Linked DNA regions of Homo sapiens: region 1 is linked to region 2. Evidence: fine-mapped expression QTL. A gene starts in region 2. The other region holds a variant in brackets. All regions are shown on one strand. Distances are from middle to middle. Region 1 has its middle 19 kb from the start of SBDS. Region 2 holds the start of LINC02604 (long intergenic non-protein coding RNA 2604).

Region 1 (9,064 bases), 71 kb after region 2:
TTGTATTTTTAGTAGAGATGGGGTTTCACCATGTTAGCCAGGATGGTCTCCATGTCCTGACCTCGTGATCTGCCCGCCTCGGCCTCCCAAAGTGCTGGGATTACAGGCGTGAGCCACTGCGCCCGGCCTGCAGATTTTTTCTTTACTTCATTTATTTATTTACTTATTTTAAGAGACAGGGTCTCACTCTATTACCCAGGCTGGTCTTGAACTCCTGGGCTCAACAGATCTTCCTGCCTTGGCCTCCCAGTGGGTGAGCCGGTGGACCTGGCCATCTTCAAAAATTGAAATCACTGAAAGGCACCTGGTCATCATTTTCTTGTCAAACTTTTCAATCAGAGCAAGTAATCTGTGGTTGCCCAGCCTTCAGATTAGTAGACTCGAGTGGAGACCAGGCCATATTCCAGGGAGCCACCTCAGGCCTTTTGACCTGGAACGCACAGGTGATTACCACAGCCCAGGGTGATAAAGAACTCATTCCTATGACTTGAAAGGGTGATTTTAATGTGTGCTGGACATTGCCCTAAGTATTTACGCACATTATCTCACTTAGCTCTTTACCAGTGAATGAGGTACCTATTAGCAGCCTCCTTCCACAAATACATTGAAGTTGAGTGAGATTAGATAAATTGCTCACCTGTCTTAGCAAAGGCTTTCTGGTATGAGTTACAGAAACGAACTTCAGCTGAATCTTTTGCAAAGAAAAAGAATATGGGACCCGGGGCGTGGCTCACGCCTATAATCCCAGCACTTTGGAAGGCAAAGGCAGGCGGGTCACCTGAGGTCAGGAGTTTGAGATCAACCAGGCCAACATGGTGAAATCCTGTCTCTACTAAAAATACAAAAATTAGCCAGGCGTGGTGATGGGCACCTGTAGTCCCAGCTACTCAGGAAGCTGAGGCAGGAGAATTGCTTGAACCCGGTAGGTGGAGGTTGCAGTGAGCTGAGATCACGCCATTGCACTCCAGCCTGGGCGACAGAGCGAGACTCCGTCTCAACATAAATTAATAACAAATAAGAAAAAGAATACAGGTGGGCAGCCAAAGTTACTTGTAGGCTCTCAGGATATCTCGCTGAATCCAGGGGCTGATTTGCTACGAGACAGAGGAAGGTGCTGAACCTGGCTCAGGAGACAGCTGGAAACTCAGGTAACAGACCCCAGAGTCCTCTTTTTCTCCACCTGCAGAATGGGTTCTTTCTCTTGGTATCTGTATCCTTGTAGAGAAGCATGGCTGCCCCACAACTCCTGGAATCACAGAAGACAGGTTCAGCCATCTGCAAAAATCCATGATTATTGTTCTGTCCATATTCTAAACTCCTTAGAGAGACAATCGTTATCTTCTTAGCAAAGGTTATTCCTTTTATGTGGTTGCATAAGAGTCTGTCTGTCTCGCTCTCTCTTTCTTCCCCCTTGTGTTGAGAGACAGAGATTCTAGAGAAGAAATGGAAGAATCGTGGGCTGGGCAGATATCCTAAAATGTGCCTGCTGCATACCAACTTTACACAACTAGTAAGGTTTAAATTCCTGTCTTTCCAACTCTGTTTCAAATAGACTCTGGACTGGTCAGCCGCAGTGGCTCACACCTGCAATCCCAGCACTTTGGGAGGCTGAGGCGGGCAGATCACTTGAGGCCAGGAGTTCGAGACCAGCCTGTGCAACATGGCGAAACGCGGTCTCTACTAAACACACAAAAATTAGCCGGGCGTGGTGGCGGGCGCCTGTAATCCCAGCTACTCAGGAGGCTAAGGCGGGAGAATCACTTGAACCTGGGAGGCAGAGGTTGCAGTGAGCAGAGGTCCCATCACTACATTCCAGCCTGGGCGACAGAGCAAGACTACTCCAGCCTGGGCAATAGGGCAAGACTCCGTCTCAAAAAAAAAAAAAAAAAAAAAAAAACACTAAACAGGCCAAGCGAGGTGGCTCCCACCTGTAATCCCAGCACTTTGGGAGGCTGAAGGGGGCAGGTCACCTGAGGTCAGGAGTTTGAGACCAGCCTGACTAAAATGGAGAAACCCCGTCTCTACTGAAAATAGAAAATTAGCCAGGCATTGTGGTGCATGCCTGTAATCCCAGCTACTCGGGAGGCTGAGGCAGGAGGATCATTTGAACCCGGGAGGCGGAGGTTGTGGTGAGCCGAGATCGCGCCATTGCACTCTAGCCTGGGCAACAAGAGTGAAACTCTGTCTCAAAAACAAAGCAACAAACAAATTAAGGAACAAACACCTCTGGCTGGGCTATTCCCACTTCCATAGTACTTTAAAACAAATCTGATACTTTTTTTTTCTTCCCGAGAGGGAATCTCGCTCTGTCGCCCAGGCTGGAGGGCAGTGGGGCAATCTCGGCTCACTGCAAGCTCTGCCTCCCAGGTTCACGCCATGCTCCTGCCTCAGCCTCCCGAGTAGCTGGGACTACAGGTGCCCACGACCACGCCCGGCTAATTTTTTGTATTTTTGGTAGAGACGTGGTTTCACCGTGTTAGCCAGGATGGTCTTGATCTCCTGACCTTGTGATCCACCCACCTCGGCCTCCCAAAGTGCTGGGATTACAGGCGTGAGCCACCGCGCCTGGCCTGATACTTAAGTCTCTGTCAGCCTCTCAAGAGGGCCATCCCATCTATAGCCATATCCCTCTGAAACATCCCATCTCACCAAAAGGACCACCAGGGTTTGAGAAAATCTGCGGCAGATCTTGCTGGGCTGAAGTCTTACGTACGTTTGATCTCTCGGCATTTCTGTTGTGTTCCTCCCTACGCCCCCAGCTCTGAACTGTCTAAATGCCTGTTCTTACCTTAAAATATTGATCTACAAACTAGAATAGTGGTTCTGAAACTTTAGCGTGCATCAGAGTCACTTGGAGAGTTTACTGACTTATAGATTTACAGTTTATTGAGATTAAAAATTGCTGGGCCCCGTCTCTGATTGATTAGGTTTGGAATGAGGTTTAAGATTTTTCTTTTTTGAGACGGAGTCCCGCTCTGTCACCCAGGCTGGAGTGCAATGGTGCGATCTCGGCTCACTGCAACCCCCGCCTCCCAGGTTCAACCAATTCTCCTGCCTCAGCCTCATGAGTGGCTGTGATTGCTGGCGTGAGCCACCACACCCGGCTAATTTTTGTATTTATAGTAGAGATGGGGTTTCGCCATTTTGGCCAGGCTGGTCTCGAATTCCTGACCTCAGGTTATCTGCCTGCCTCGGCCTCCCAAAGTGCTGGGAATCCAGGCGTGAGCCAGCGCGCCCGGCCAAGATTTTGCATTTGTAACAAGTTCTTGTTACCTACGCAGTGGATGAGTTCAGTCGCTTGGTGGATTACAGACAGCTCCCAAAACAGTGCCACTTGGAGAGTGGGGGCTGGGTTGGCTTTTATAGGCCTAGGCTAATGAGTCATGATATGATTGGATCTTGTAGTCAGGTGATGCCAGGAGGTGTGATCTGACTGGATGCTGCAATGGGGTGATGCCAGGGCTCAATCTGATTGGATCCTGGATCCTGGTGGGCTGTGTCTGTTTCTTAATTTAGTCCCCATGCCCCGATCCTAGCACTTAGGATCCCCCTGTGGGTGCAGGCTTGGTTCGTCTGGACGTGCTCAGGTTACATAATCTGAGGGTTCCAGGCAACTGATAAACTAACGACTTTGTTACATAAAAGTTGAAGCAGGCCGGGCGCGGTGGCTCATGCCTGTAATCCCAGCACTTTGGGAGGCCGAGACGGGCGGATCACGAGGTCAGGAGATCGAGACCATCCTGGCTAACACGGTGAAACCCC[A/G]TCTCTACTAAAAATACAAAAAATTAGCCGGCCTGGTGGCACACACTTGTAGACCCAGCTACTCAGAAGGCTGAGGCAGGAGAATGGCGTGAACCCAGGAGGCGGAGCTTGCAGTGAGCCGAGATTGAGCCACTGCACTCCAGCCTGGGCAACAGAGCGAGACTCTGTCTCAAAAAAAAAAAAAAAAAAAAGTTGAACCAGATTGGTCTAGTGCAGCTACAGGCGCGGTGGCTCACGCCTGTAATCCCAGGACTTTGGGAGGCTGAGGCAGGCGATCCTAATGGTGTATCCCCACTTTGAGAACTACTTAACTAGAAGAAGCCAAAGTCACGAATACATCCCCTAATGCAAAGCCTCACAACTAGCAGGCGATCAATACATGCTTATTTTATAAACTTCCTAATGCAGAGAGTCCAATTTTTCTCTATTTCTTCACGTCGATTTAATTACTTAGATTGGAGTCTTTGTCAGCCGGGCGCAGTGGCTCACTCCTGTAATCCCAGCACATTGGGAGGCTGAGGCGGGGGGATCACCTGAGGTCAGGAGTTCGAGACCAGCCTGACCAACATGGAGAAACCCCATCTCTATTAAAAATACAAAATTTGCCGGGCGTGGTGGTATATGCCTGTAATCCCAGCTACTTGGGAGGCCGAGGCAGGAGAATCGCTTGAACCTGGGAGGCGGAGGTTGCGGTAAGCTGAGATGGCGCCATTGCACTCCAGCCTGGGCAACAAGAGCGAAACACCGTCTCAAAAAAAAAAAAAAAAAGATTGGAGTCTTTGTCCAAAACATGCTGTTTCAGAATTAAGCGGTGGGGGGGGGGGGGGGGAATAATTGTAATAAAAAGTTCTGTTTGCCTTTATTATTTATGCATTTATTTATTTTCAGGACGGAGTCTCTCTCTGTCACCCATGCTGGAGTGCAGTGGCCTGATCCTGGCTCACTGCAACCTTCGCCTCCAGGGTTCAAACGATTCTTCTGCCTCAGCCTCCTGAGTAGCTGGGATTACATGATGTCTGGAATCTATGAATAACATTGGTTTCTAAGTTATGAGTTGAGTTTTAACTACTGGGTTTAGACCAGGCAGGCCCAGGCGTGGTTTCGGGCATGGCGCTGGGCTGCCTGTCTTTGGTTTTACTTCCTTGTTGTTTTTTCTTAAAACAGGTACTGAGTATAAAACAATATAAAACAATATGAGAGGATCTCTCTCTTCCCTCATCACTGTGTTAGCCAGGCTGGTCTCGAACTCCTGACCTCAGGTGATCCATCCACCCTTGGCCTCCCAAAGTGCTGGAATTACAGGCGTGAGCCACTGCACCTGGCCCTATGTTTGCCTTTATAAATAAGATTTATTTTAGCTCTTCTTTCTTTCTAATGCAAAGTACTTTAACAATTTTAAAAAATTAAGTGTTTCAATCGGGTGGGTATGGTGGCTCATGCCTGTAATCCCAGCACTTCTGGAGGCTGAGTCAGGAGGATCGCTCGAGCCCAGGGGGTTGAGACTAACCTGGGAAACATTGTGAGACCCCATCTTTATTTTTAAAAATGATTTCAATACAGAAAATGCCTGTTATTGCCATAAAGAGCTATCTTGATAGCTGGACCATTGCACTTCAGGAGTAGCTGTTGTATGGCAGCCGTGGAAATTGTGCAGTGCTCAGCCTGTGCAACCACATGTGGCAGCCTGGTGGAGAGTTTCTCTGCGATAAATAGTAATGAAATATTTCTCTCCCTCCCCACTTTTCAAAGCTTCTTTTTTTTTTTTTTTTTCTGAGACAGTTTCACTCTTGTGGCCCAGGCTGGAGTGCAATGGCGTGATCTCAGCTCACCGCAACCTCCGTCTCACGGGTTCAAGCAATTCTCCTGCCTCAGCCTCCCGAGTAGCTGGAATTACAGGCATGCGCCACCATGCCCAGCTAATTTTGTATTTTTGGTAGAGACAGGGTTTCTCCATGTTGGTCAGGCTGGTCTCGAACTCCTGACCTCAAGTGATCCGCCTGCCTTGGCCTCCCAACTTGCTGGGATTACAGGCCTGAGCCACCGCCTGGCCTCAAAGCTTCTTTTGTTAAAGGTTTGGGCTATTTTTTAGTAACTTTTAGTCTCATTGCATTTTTTCCCAGCTTCCTTTCCTTTTTTTTTTTTTTTAATTGAGACCGAGTCTTGCTTTGTTACCGAGGTTGGAGTGCAGTGATAAAATCTTGGCTCACGCCAACCTCCACCTCTCAGGTTCAAGCGATTCTCCTGCCTCAGCCTCCCAAGTAGCTGGGATTACAGGTGCCCACCACCACGCCCGGCTAATTTTTGTATTTTTAGTAGAGATGGCATTTCACCATGTTGGCAAGGCTGGTCTCGAACTCCTCACCTCAAGTGATATGCCTGCCTCAGCCTCCCAAGTGCTGGGATTATAGGCATGAGCCACCGCACCCAGCGCTTTCCTTTTCTCTTGATGTGACTTGCTAAACCACTTGACAAAGAAGCTGAGGTTATTAGGCTTTTCTTTTCACAAATAAGGTGAATGAATCATAAGCCCATGTCTGCTGCTTTATTTACTGAATTAGTGTTCTAAAAATAAAACAGCACTCTTTAAGTCCAACATTTATACCTAAATTCTGGGCCCTGAAATGTAATTGTGCACCTGGGCCCGTATTTAACTTCAAATTCTCCATCTGTGTAAGATGCATAATACCAGGTCTACTATGCAGACAGTTACGGTAAGTCAGACGATGTCTGAAAAACACTTGAGACACACAGTTGCCATGTTCTGTGTACTGACGGAAAGTATGAAATTAGCAAAACATGCAGGGAATATTCAGCTGTATTCATTACTGTGTTTGGGCAAAATACGGTAAAGAAATTGCTCAGCATAGTTTCTCTGAAGATGTTTGGGTATACTTAGTATGCTTTGCAAACCTTGGAATTGGATTTAATTTTTACTTAGAGAATTAAGCATCTAATTATTGCCACAAAAAATAGTAGATTAAGGCCATGCACAGTGGCTCACGCCTGTAATCCTAGCACTTTGGGAGGCTGAGGCAGGTGGATCACCTGGGTTCAAGGGTTCGAGACCAGCGTGGCCACTGTGATGAAACCCCGTCTCTAATAAAAAAAAAAAATTTAGCTGGGCATGGTAGGGGGCGCCTGTAATCCCAGCTACTTGGGAAGCTGAGGCAGGAGAATCACTTGAACCCAGGAGGCGGAGATTGCAGTGAGGAGAGATTGCCCCACTGCACTCCAGCCTGGGCAACAGAGCGAGACTCTGTCTCAAACAAACAAACAAAATAGTAGATTAAGTTTGGGCAACATAGGAAGACCCTGTCCCTACAAAAAGTTAAAATAATTAGCTAGGCGTGGTGGCACAAGCCTGTAGTTCCAGCAACTCTGGAGGCTGAGGCAGGAGGATTGATTGAACCTAAGAGTTCTAGGCTGCAGAGAGCTATGATTGCACCACTGCACTCTGTTACAGATGTATACATGTACTGAGTCATGATGGAAAATGGATTGATTTAGAAATGTTTGGGTATGATGGCTTGCTCATTGCCCTTCTATGGTTCACTATAGCTTAGGCTATTTGGAGAAAAGCAAAACATTTGAAAGCTGAAACATTCAAAACATTCAAAGATTCAAAGCTGAAATCTGTGATCCATGCCATGAAACTCAAGGAAAAAAAAATGCGGCAGTTATTTTAGTGGCACCAAGTCCTGGGGCTCCTGGATCCCAGCCTAGGAGGAGAGGGACGTGAAGAAAAGTAAGGGCCAGCACATTTTGACTGTTCTGGGGAAAAGGAACTGCAGCAAGAAGTAACTGCTCTGCTCAAAACATTCCTATTCTCTCTCTCTCTCGTCTCACTCTGTCACTCAGGCTGGAGTGCAGTGGTGCGATCTCGGCTCACTGCAACCTGTGCCTCCTGGGTTCATGTGATTCTCCTGCCTCAGTCTCCCTAGTAGTTGGGATTACAGGTACCTACCACCACTCCCAGCTAATTTTTTGTATTTTTAGTAGAGAAGGGATTTCACCATTTTGGCCAGGCTGGCCTCGAACTCCTGACCTTGGGTGATCCGCCTGCCTCAGCCTTCCAAAATGCTGGGATTATAGGCATGAGCCAACGCGCCTGGCCAGCCTCTCTTTATTGGGAGCTTTCCATCCACTCTCCATCTCTTCTGCCTTTTCTTTTTAAATCTCCTCATCACTTCCTTGCAAACTCTCCATGCCTCCTAGTGCCTGAGGTAGGTATAAGACAGCTTGAAACCAGTAATCTACAATTCTTTCCTGGGCTTTCCGTTCTCACAACAGAGTCTGTGTCACCTGCTAAGGTACTGAAACTGACTCAGTTCTTTCATAGAGCAGATGTTTATGGTTTCTTTTGAATAAACATAGAAATTGACACTTCTAGCCTGGTGTGGTGGAGTGTGCTGGTATTCCCAGCTACTTGGGAGGCTGAGGCGGGAGGATCCTTTGAGCCCAGGAGTTCTGGGCTGTAGTGCGCTATGCCAATCAGGTGTCTGCACTAAGTTTAGCATCAACTTCCTGGGAGTGGGGGACCACCAGGTTGCTTAAGGAGGGGTTAACCAGTTCAGGTCGGAGACTGAGCAGGTCAAAACTCCTGTGCTGATGAGTAGTGGCATCACGCCTGTGAATAGCCACTGCACTTCAGCCTGGGCAACATAGTGAGACCCTGTCTCAAAACAAAACAAAAGCAAAAGCAAAAAGAGAAACAAATTGACCTTTCCAGTCTTGAAATTTGAGAAAGTGACATTTGCCTTATCTGAGTTCCTTTCTCAGGAAATCAACCATCAAGCCTCCCAGATGGTATCAAGGAACTGAAACTTACCAGATCACTGCATTTGGACAATGAGATGCAGAACCCCTCATCTGTCATAATGGCCTAACAGACCACCTGCTGCCTGTTGATCAACTCCTCTTCCTTACCCCTCCCTAATTCCTGTTTTACTGCATGTAGTTACATTTCTTCCTTCCTATATAAACCTCTAATTTTAGTTGGTCAGGGAGACAAATTTGAAACTGATCTCCCATCTCCTTGGCTGGAGCACCCAATTAAAGCCTTCTTCCCTGGCACTACTGATTGGCTTTCTGTGCAGCAAGCGGCAGGACCTACACCAAACCCCTGGCATTTTGGCAACAGCACTGGTCATGCTAGGGAAAAAGTTCAAGATCTCAACTTCCAAGACCCAGGGAAGCCTCTCACAATTTCTAAAGGGCAGGGCAGAAGAGATCTTTGAAAGTGAATCTGAATGAGAATAAAAGTGCAGTTTCACTTTAAATTTTCCAAAAAGCTTATTAAATT
Region 2 (9,064 bases):
TTCCCAAATTGCTGGGATTACAGGCATGAGCCACCATGCCTGGCCTCTGCTAGTTTTGTATTCTCTAGAATTGTCTGTAGTTAGTGCTAGTGTGTCACTCATTATGCTGATCCTCTGTTATAATTAATATTTTTTATATTAAAGTTACTTTTTTTTTTTTTGGTATTGGGTCTCAGTCTGTCACCAAGGCTGGAGTGCAGAGGCATGATCTCTGCTCACAGCAACCTCCACTTCGAAGGCTCAAGCAATTCTCCATCCTCAGCCTCCCAAGTAACTGGGATTACAGGTATGTGCCAGCATGCCTGGCTAATTTTTGTGCTTTTTTTGTGCTTTTTGTAGAGACAGGGTTTTGCCGTGTTTCCCAGGCTGGTCTCAACTCCTGAGCTCAAAGTAATCCACCCGCCTTGGCCTCCCAAAGCGCTGGGATTACAGGTTTGAGCCACCGTGCGCATTCCAGTTTAAACTTTTGAGCGGTTTATATGTTTTGATTGGACTCCTAGAAATACAGAATTGATGCTAGGAAGAGTACCAGGAGATAGACACATATACATGGGATTTCAGCCTTGGTTTGGTTATCCAAGGAGCAGTGCTGAGTTTCTTGCCAATGGGACATGGGATGCTGGTGATTTCCAGGAAGTGTCCTCACAATGAGTGAAGCTACCACTTACTGTTTATTGTGATGAAATGCTAGCCAAGGCATATGCCATGCGAGTTAACGGATGCTATGCTTCACCACTGTGGCAATAAAGATGACTCTGAAGAATGGCATGGGACGGAACCTTTCAAATGCACCTGAGCAGGGGTCTCCACCACAGGGCCACAGAGCTGGTGGTGAGCAGCAAAGTGAGGGGAAAATTCGTTTGTATTTATAGCCCCTCCCCATCGCTCGCATAACCACCTGAGCGTCATGTCCTGACAGGTCCAGCTACTGCCTTCCAGTGACCTCTTTAGGCTCATCTCATGCTTCACCGTGGCCTCGCCAAACCAAGCTGCTGCGTTTCAGCAGCCTCTGCAGCAGAGGCCGAGCTCTGCGTCCTGATCATCCTGATGGCCTCTTTAGGCCCAGCTCATTTCTCACAACGGCCACCTTAGGCCCAGCTTTTCCCTTTTGGTGGCCTCTCCAGGCCGAGAAATTCCTCAAGTCGGCCTCCCCCACCGCAGTTGCTGCCTCCCGGCCTCTTCTCCAGTCCCAGTCCTCTCTCGCAGCTGTGTCTACAGGCCCAGCTCCTGCCTCCAAAGAGCCTCTTTTGACTCGGCTCCTACCCAGCTCCTGGCAGCCTTTGTAGGCCTGAAATCTCTTCCAGTCCAGCACTCCATACCCAGTCTCCCCTCACAGCGGCCTTCCCAGGCCCAGCTTTTGCCTCACAGCGGCCTTCCCCGGCCATTTTCTAGCCGGCCTCGCGGTAGCCTCAACAAGCCCAGCTCCCGCCTCACACTGGCCTCTCTAGGCCCAGCTCAGGCGTCACAGTGGCGTCTCCAGGCCCAGCTCCCGCCCACCCCAACAGCGTCTCGCGGCTCAAGGCGTTCTCAAGATGGCCCTTCCAGGCCAAGTTCCTGCCTCCCGCCGATGGCCCGTGTGGGCCCAAAGCGTCCTGAAGTCGGCCTCGCCAGGCCCAGCTCCTGCCTGTCGTAGGCGCCTAGAGGCATGGCCTCTGCCTCCTCACAGTGGACCCCCCCAGACCCAGCTCTTGCTTCAGCATGGCCACCTCAGGCCAAGCTCCTGCCTTGCCTGTTGGCAGCCTCCACAGGCCCAGCTCTTGCCTCTCGCCATCCTCTCCAGGTCCAGAACTGTTTCCAGCCGGCCTCTCCAGGCCCAGCTCTCCCTCCCGGCTGTGGCTGCCGGCCCAGCTCCTGCCTCGCAACAGGCACGTTCGGCCCAACTCCTGCCCAGCTCATGGCAGCATTTGTAGGCCCCAGGCTCCTCTAAGTCAGGCCTTCCAGGCCCTGCCTTCAGCTCCCTGGCGGCCTGGAGAGGCCCAGCTCCTGCCTGACAGCGGCCTCTCCGGGCCCAGCTCTTGTCTCGCGTCGGCCTCCCCGGGACACATTTCCCCCTGCCTCGCGGCAGCCCCGAAAGACCCAGCTCCTGCCTCCTGATGGCCTCTTTAGGCTCATCTCATGCCTCACTGCAGCCTCCCCCAGGCCAGGCTCCTGCCTTTCGGCGGCTTCCGCAGGTCCGGCTCCTGCGTCCTGACGGCCTCTTTAGGCCCGGCTCGTCCCTCACAATGGCCTCTTTCAAAGGCCCAGCTTTTCCTTCGTGGCGGCCTCTCCAGGCCCAAATTGGCAAGCCTCCCCTGTCCTGGTGGCTGTCTCCCGGCCTACTCTCCAGGCCCAGCACACTCTCGCGGCTGTACCTCCAGGCCCAGCCCCTGCCTGCAGACAGCCGCTTTTGACTCGGTTCGTGCCCAGCTCCTGGCGGCCTTTGTAGGCCCGAAACCTCCTCCAGCACAGCTCTTCAGGCCCACCTGTGGCCTCGCAGCGGCCTTCCCAGGCCCAGCTCTTGCCTCACGGCGGCCTTCCCCGGCTGTATTCCTGCCAGCCTCTCGGCGGCCTCAAAAAGCCCGGCGCCTGCCTCACACTGGGGTCTCTAGGCCCAGCTCACGCCTGACGGTGGTCTCTCAAGGCCCAGCTCCCGCCCACCCCGACCGGCCCAAGGCTTTCTCAAGTTGGCCCATCCAGGGCCCAATTCCTGCCCTCCGCTGATGGCCTGTGCAGACCCAAAGTATCCTGAAGTCGGCCTCGCCGGGCCTAGCTCCTGCCTGTCATAGGCCCCTAGAAGCACGGCCTCTGCCTTCTAAAAGTGGAACCCCCCAGTCCCAGCTGTTGCCTCAGCGTGGCCACATCAGCCGAAGCTCCTGCCCTGCCTGTTGGCAGCCTCCATGGGCCAAGCTCTTGCCTCTCACCATCCTCTCCAGGCCCAGTACTGTTTCCAGCCGGCCTCTCCAGGCCCAACTCTCCCTCTCAGCTGTGCCTGCCGGCCCAGCTCCTACCTCGCAAAAGCCACGTTCGGCCCAGCTCCTGCCCAGCTCCTGGCAGCCTTTGTAAACCCCAGGATCCTCTAAGTCAGGCCTTTCAGGCCCTGCCTTTGGCTCCCCGGTGGCATGGAGAGGCCCAGCTCCTGCCTGACAGCGGCCTCTCCAGGCCCAGCTCTTGCCTCACGTTGGCCTCCCTGGGCCACGTTTCCGCCTGCCTCGCGGCAGCCCCGACAATCCCGGCTCCTGCCTCCCGATGGCATCTTTAGGCTCATCTCGTGCCTCACCACGGCCTGCACCAGGCCACACTCCTGCCTTTCGGTGGCCTCCGCGGGCCTGACTCCTGCGTCCCAATGGCCTCTTTAGGCCCGGCTCGTGCCTCGCCGCGGCCTCCTGAGGCCCACCTTTGCCCTTCTGGCAGCCTCTCCAGGCCCAGGACTTCCTCAAGTCGGCCTCTGCCAGCCCAGTGGCCGCCTCCCGGCCTCCTCTCCGGGCCCAGCTCCTTGCTCGTGGCTGCGCCCGCGGGCCCAGCTCCTGCCTCTGAACATCCTCCTGTGACTCGGCTCCTGCCCAGCTCCCAGCGGCCTCCGTAGACCCGAAGCCTCCTCCGGTCCAGCTCTCCAGGCCTGCCTCCTGCCTCGTGGCGGCCTTCCCCGGCCATGCTCGTGCCGGCTTCCCGGCAGCCTCCACGAGCCCGGCTCCTGCCTCACGCGGGCCCCTCCAGGCCCAGCTCGTGCCTCGCGGCGGCCTCTCCAGGCCCGGCTCCCGCCCAGCCCGACGGCGTCTCCCAGCCCAAGGCTCCCTTCCTCAACGTCGGCCCCTCTGGGCCCAGCTCCTGCCTCCCGCTGATGGCCTGTGCGGGCCCACCCGAGGCGGCCCGAAGTCGGCCTCGCCAGGCCCAGCTCCTGCCTGGCGTAGGCCCCTGGGGGCACGGCCTCTGCCCCACAGTGGCCCCTCCGGGCCCAGCTCGTGCCTCGGCTTGGCCGCCTCAGGCCCAGCTCCTGCCTGTGGGCGGCCTCTCTCCAGACCCGGCTCTCGCCTCCCGGCATCCTCTCCAGGCCCAGAGCTGTTTCCAGTTGCTAGACCATTTTTGTGCCTGCCTCGTTGCAGCATCTCCAAGCCCAGCTTTTGCTTTTCTGCAGTTTCTTGAGGCCGAACTCCATTTTTCGAATGGCTTATTTAGGCCCAGCTCTTGCGTTTGCATTGTCCCTTCAGGCCCAGAACTTTCTCACGTCATCGTCACCAGGCCTAGCTTCTGCATCTGGTCAGCCTTTTAAGGCCCAGCTTTTGCCTCATAAACTCAGCTCCTGTTTAATGGCGGCCTCCCAGGTCCCACCTTCTGCCTTCCTGTGTCCACTCCAGGCCCAGCTACTGCCTTGGTGCTCTTTTTAAGTCAATAATTTTTTCCAGTCGACCTCTCCAGGCCCAACTTGTACCTCTGAGTGTCCTCTAGGATCTCAGCTTCTGCCTAACAATGACCTCTTTAGACTCAGCTCATTTTCACTGCTACATCTTCAAGCCATTCTCCTGCCTCTTGGCAACCTCTAGTGGCCCAGCTTCTGCCTCACAGCAGCCTCTCCATGCATGCCTAGCTCCTGCCTCTTTAGGGAACTTACAGGCCTAAAACTTTCTTAATTTGGGCTTCTCAGGCCCAGCTCCTGCCTTCTGTTGGCCTCTACAGGCCTGGCATCATCCTTTCAACAGCCTCTTTAGGCCCGGCCTCTCCAGGACCAAAACATCCTTAAGTCAACCTCACCAGGCCCGGCTCCTGTCTCCTTGCGGCCTCCAGAGGCCGAGCTTTTGCCTGCCAATGGCCTCTCTAGCCCCAGCTTTTGCCTGCCAATGGCCTCTCTAGCCCCAGCTTCTGCCTTTCATCGGTCTCTCCAGGCTTAGCTCCTTTCTCTTCACGGCCTCTGCAGGCCTAAAACTTCCTCAATTTGGCATCTCCAGGCCCAGCTCCTGCCTCCAGGCCGCCTCTGCAGGCCTATCTCAAGCCTTACAACAGCCTCTTTACCCCCAGCTCCTTTCTCCGACTTGTCTCTCCAGGCCTAGAACTTCCTCATGTTTACCTCACCAGGCCCACCTCCTGCCTTCCAGTAGCGTCTACAAGTTTGGCTCCTGCCTCCCATGGATCTCTCCAGGCCCCAAACTTTCTCAAGTCAACCTCACCAGGCCCGGCTTCTCCCTTTCATCAGCCTTCCAAAGGCCAGCTTTTGCTTCATGTCTGCCTTCCGAGTCCCAGCTCCTGTTTTATGGCAGCCTCCTGAGGCCCAGCTCCTGCCTCCTAGTGGCCTCTTTTGGCCCAACTCTTTCCTCACCAGGGCCTTCCAGACCACGTTCCTGCCTTTTAGCAGCCACTACAGGCCCAGCTTTGCGTCCTTTCAAGAGTCCTGCCTCACAGTGGCCTCCCAAGGGCAACTTTCTGCCTCATGTCAGCCTCTTGTGCCCTGGTCCTGCTTCCTGGTAGACTCTGCAGGCCCTGCTCCTGCCTTACGTTGCCCCTTTTATAAAGATCCAGTTCCTGCCTCCTGGCTGCCTCTATGAGCCCAAATCCTGCCTAACAACAACCTGTTTTTGCCCAGCTCCTGCTTCCTGGCAGCCTCCTTAGGCCAAAAATTTCCTTCAGTTGACCTCTCCAGGCCCAGCTCCTGCCTCTCAGCACCCTCTTTAGGCCCAGCTCCTGCCTTAATAAATTTGAATAAATTATTGTTATGTGATTATTATGTGAAACATTTTTTCTTCAAAAGGTAATGAAAATTGAGGTAAAGTATAAAAGTCTAGCATATAAATTCCTCTATTGTCACCCTTCGTATTAGTCACAGTTCTCTAAAGGAGCAGAACTGTTAGGATAGATGTATATATATAAGGGAGTTTCTTAAGGGGTATTAACTCACAGGATCACAAGGTTCCACAATAGGCTGTCTGCAAGCTGAGGAGCAAGGAAGCCATTCTGAGTCCCAAACCTGAAGAACTTGGAGTCCGATGTTCTAGGGCAGGAACCATCCAGCATGGGAGAAAGATGTAGGCTCGGAGGCTAAGCCAGTCTCACCTCTTTATGTTCCTCTGCCTCATTTTTATTTTTGCCACACTGGCAGCTGATTAGATTGTGCCCACCTAGTTTAAGGGCGGGTCTGCCTTTCCCAGCCCCCTGACTCAAATGTTAATCTCCTTTGGCAACACCCTCACATACACACCCAGGAACAATACTTTGCATCCTTCAGTCCAATAGAGTTGACAGTCAATATTAACCATCACAAGTTCACCCCTTGTCAACTTTAACCCATACACATCTTCTGAAATTATACATAATCTTCAAATAAAGATAATAATAAGGTCATAATTGTGCCTAAGATAATAATAAAAGTATTCTTCATACAACTGGAAATGCACCAATCCTGAACCCAAATGCCCTTATATAAAACTAACACTTAGATGCTTATATGAAGTCAATATAAGTTATTCACACAATAAAGGAAAAAGGAAATGAAATATTCTTAGTACAAGCTTATATATGCACAAACATGTTTTTAACAAAAGGAGGAAATACTCATGACAATTACAGTCCTCGTTTCTGTAGCTGGTCACATGGTCATAGCTGGTATTGATGACTGCCTTTTTCTATTACCCATTCTGTATTCTTTTTGCCTTCAGAAAGCATCTCAGCAGGTTTTTTCCTGGAGTGACCCAAGCCTTCATTCCTGAAGGGTCTGGGCCATTTGTAGTCCTGCCTGGGTTGGGCTGTTATAGTTTCCCATTGACCTTAATCACAGGGCATCTCCTGTATTCCATGCATATTCTTCCTTACCTCCATTGTGGAGTAGTAGACTGATTTCATCTTGATAGTCTGGGTCAATCATCCCAGAAGGTTGTAACTCCCTTCTTAGCCTGTTGATTTAAAAGTGGCAGGACCCCAAAGTGTCCAGGTGGCAATCGTAACTTCCAGTTTAATGGAATCGTTGTGTCTCCTGGTGGCAGCTTTCTTCCCTCTGGATCTAAGACCTCTAGACCAGCAGAATGTAATGTTGTGGGAACAGGTAGCCAAAATTTTCTAGTGGATCACTAGGGGTGATGGTGAGTGATGCCACTTCCACTTCCACCCCTTGATTCCTGGACCTGTGAATCCTGGCTATGGGATAAACAATGCCATATATTGGATGCTGATTCAGAGCAGACATGGCCTTCTGGAGAAATTTGCCCCAGCCCCGCAGAGTATTATCACCTAGTTGGCATTGTAATTGTGACTTCAAAAGGCCATTCCACCATTCTATCAATCCAGCTGCTTCGGGATGGTGGGGAACATGGTGGGATCAGTGAATTCCAAGAGCATGAGCCCACTGTCACACTAGCTGTAAAGTGAGTGCCTTGGTCAGAGGCAATGCTGTGTGGAATACCATGACGGTGGATAAGGCATTCCGTGAATCCACAGATGGTAGTCTTAGCAGAAGCATTGCGTGTAGGATAGGCAAACTCATATCTGGAGTGTCCATTCCAGGGAGGAGAAACCTCTGCCCTTTCCATGATGGAAGAAGTCCAATATAATCAATCTGCCACCATGTAGCTGTGTGATCACCCAAGGAATGATGCCATATCAAGGGCTCAGTGTTGGGCACTGCTGCTGGAAAATGGGGCACTCAGCAGTGGCTGTAGCCAGGTCTGCCTTGGTGAGTGAAAGTCCATGTTGCTGAGAAAGTCTATCCCTGCCACCATGGCCACTTTGTTTATGAGCCCATTGGGCGATGGCAGTGGTGACTGGGGAAAAGGCTGAGTGGTGTCTACAGAATGAGGCACCCTGTCCACTTGATTATTAAAATCCTCCTCCGCTGAGGTCACCCTTTGGTGAGCACTCACATGAGATACAAATATCTTGACTGTTTCTGACCACTCAGAGAGGTCCATCCACATACTTCCCCAAATTTCTTTGTCACCAGTTTTCCAATCATGCTTCTTCCAAGTCCCTGGCCATAGAGCCAAACCATTGGCTACAGCCCATGAGTCAGTATATAATCGCACACCTGGCCATTTCCTTCCATGCAAAGTGCACAACCAGGTGCACTGCTTGAAGTTCTGTCCACTGGAAAGATTTTTCTTCACTGCTGTCCATAAGGGATGTCCCAGAAAGGGGCTGTAGTGCTGCAGCTGTCCATTTTTGGGTGGTGCCTGCATATCGTGCAGAACCACCTGTGAACCAGCCCCTAGTCTTCTCTTCCTCTGTCAACTGATCATAGGGAACTCCCCATGAGGCCATCATTTCAGGCTGGGGAAGAGAAGATAGGGTGGCAGGAGTGGAGACCACGAGCATTTGAGCCACTTCCTCATGTAACTTACTTGTGCCTTCAGGACCAGCTGGAGCCCGATCACATATATACCACCTCCATCTGATGATGGAATGCTGCTGTGCACGACCCACTTTATGGCTAGGTGGGTCAGAAAACACCAGTTCATGACAGGTAGTTCAGGTCTCATGGTGACTTGATGACCCATAGTCAAATGTTCAGTTTCCACCAAAGCCCAGTAATAAGTGAAGAGCTGTCTCTCAAAAGGAGAGTAGTTATATGCAGAAGATGGCAGGGCCTTGCTCCAAAATCCTAGAGGCCTATGGGGGTCTGCCAGAGGCTCCAAACACCATCCCTATCTGCCACTGACACCTCAAGCACCACTGGGTCCGCTGGGTCATATGGCCCAAGTGGCAGAGCAGCTTGCACAGTGGACTGGACCTGTTGCAGAGCCTTCTCCTGTTCTGGACCCCACTTCTGGTACCAAAATGTGTATTAGGGTCCAGGGTCCACTAAAGGGACAGAACTAATAGAATATATATATATATATATGAATTTATTAAGGGGTATTAACTCAATCACAAGGTCCCATCACAGGCCATCTGCAAGCTGAGGAGCAAGGAAGCCAGTTTGAGTTCCAAAGCTGAAGAACTTGGAGTCCGATGTTTGAAGGCAGGAACCATCCAGCACAGGAGAAAGATGTAGGCTCAGAGGCTAAGCCAGTCTAATCTCTTCACGTTCTTCTGCCTACTTTTTATTGTGGCCTCGCTGGCAGCTGATTAGATGGTGCCCACCTGGATTGAGGGTAGGTCTGCGTCTCCC

Evidence for each region.
Region 1: its variant is fine-mapped to the expression of LINC02604 in whole blood (INTERVAL, PIP 0.94).

The regions. Positions count from the first base shown.
Region 1 is chr7:66,971,969-66,981,032 of GRCh38, forward strand. It overlaps the pseudogene RN7SL43P. Among named protein-coding and RNA genes, the nearest start is that of SBDS, 19 kb to the right of the region's middle. The variant A/G (reference allele first, on the strand shown) is at 3,763.
Region 2 is chr7:66,900,612-66,909,675 of GRCh38, forward strand. It overlaps LINC02604 (long intergenic non-protein coding RNA 2604), which reads left to right and starts at 3,509. Exons shown (of 1, transcript NR_136637.1): 1 at 3,509-5,686.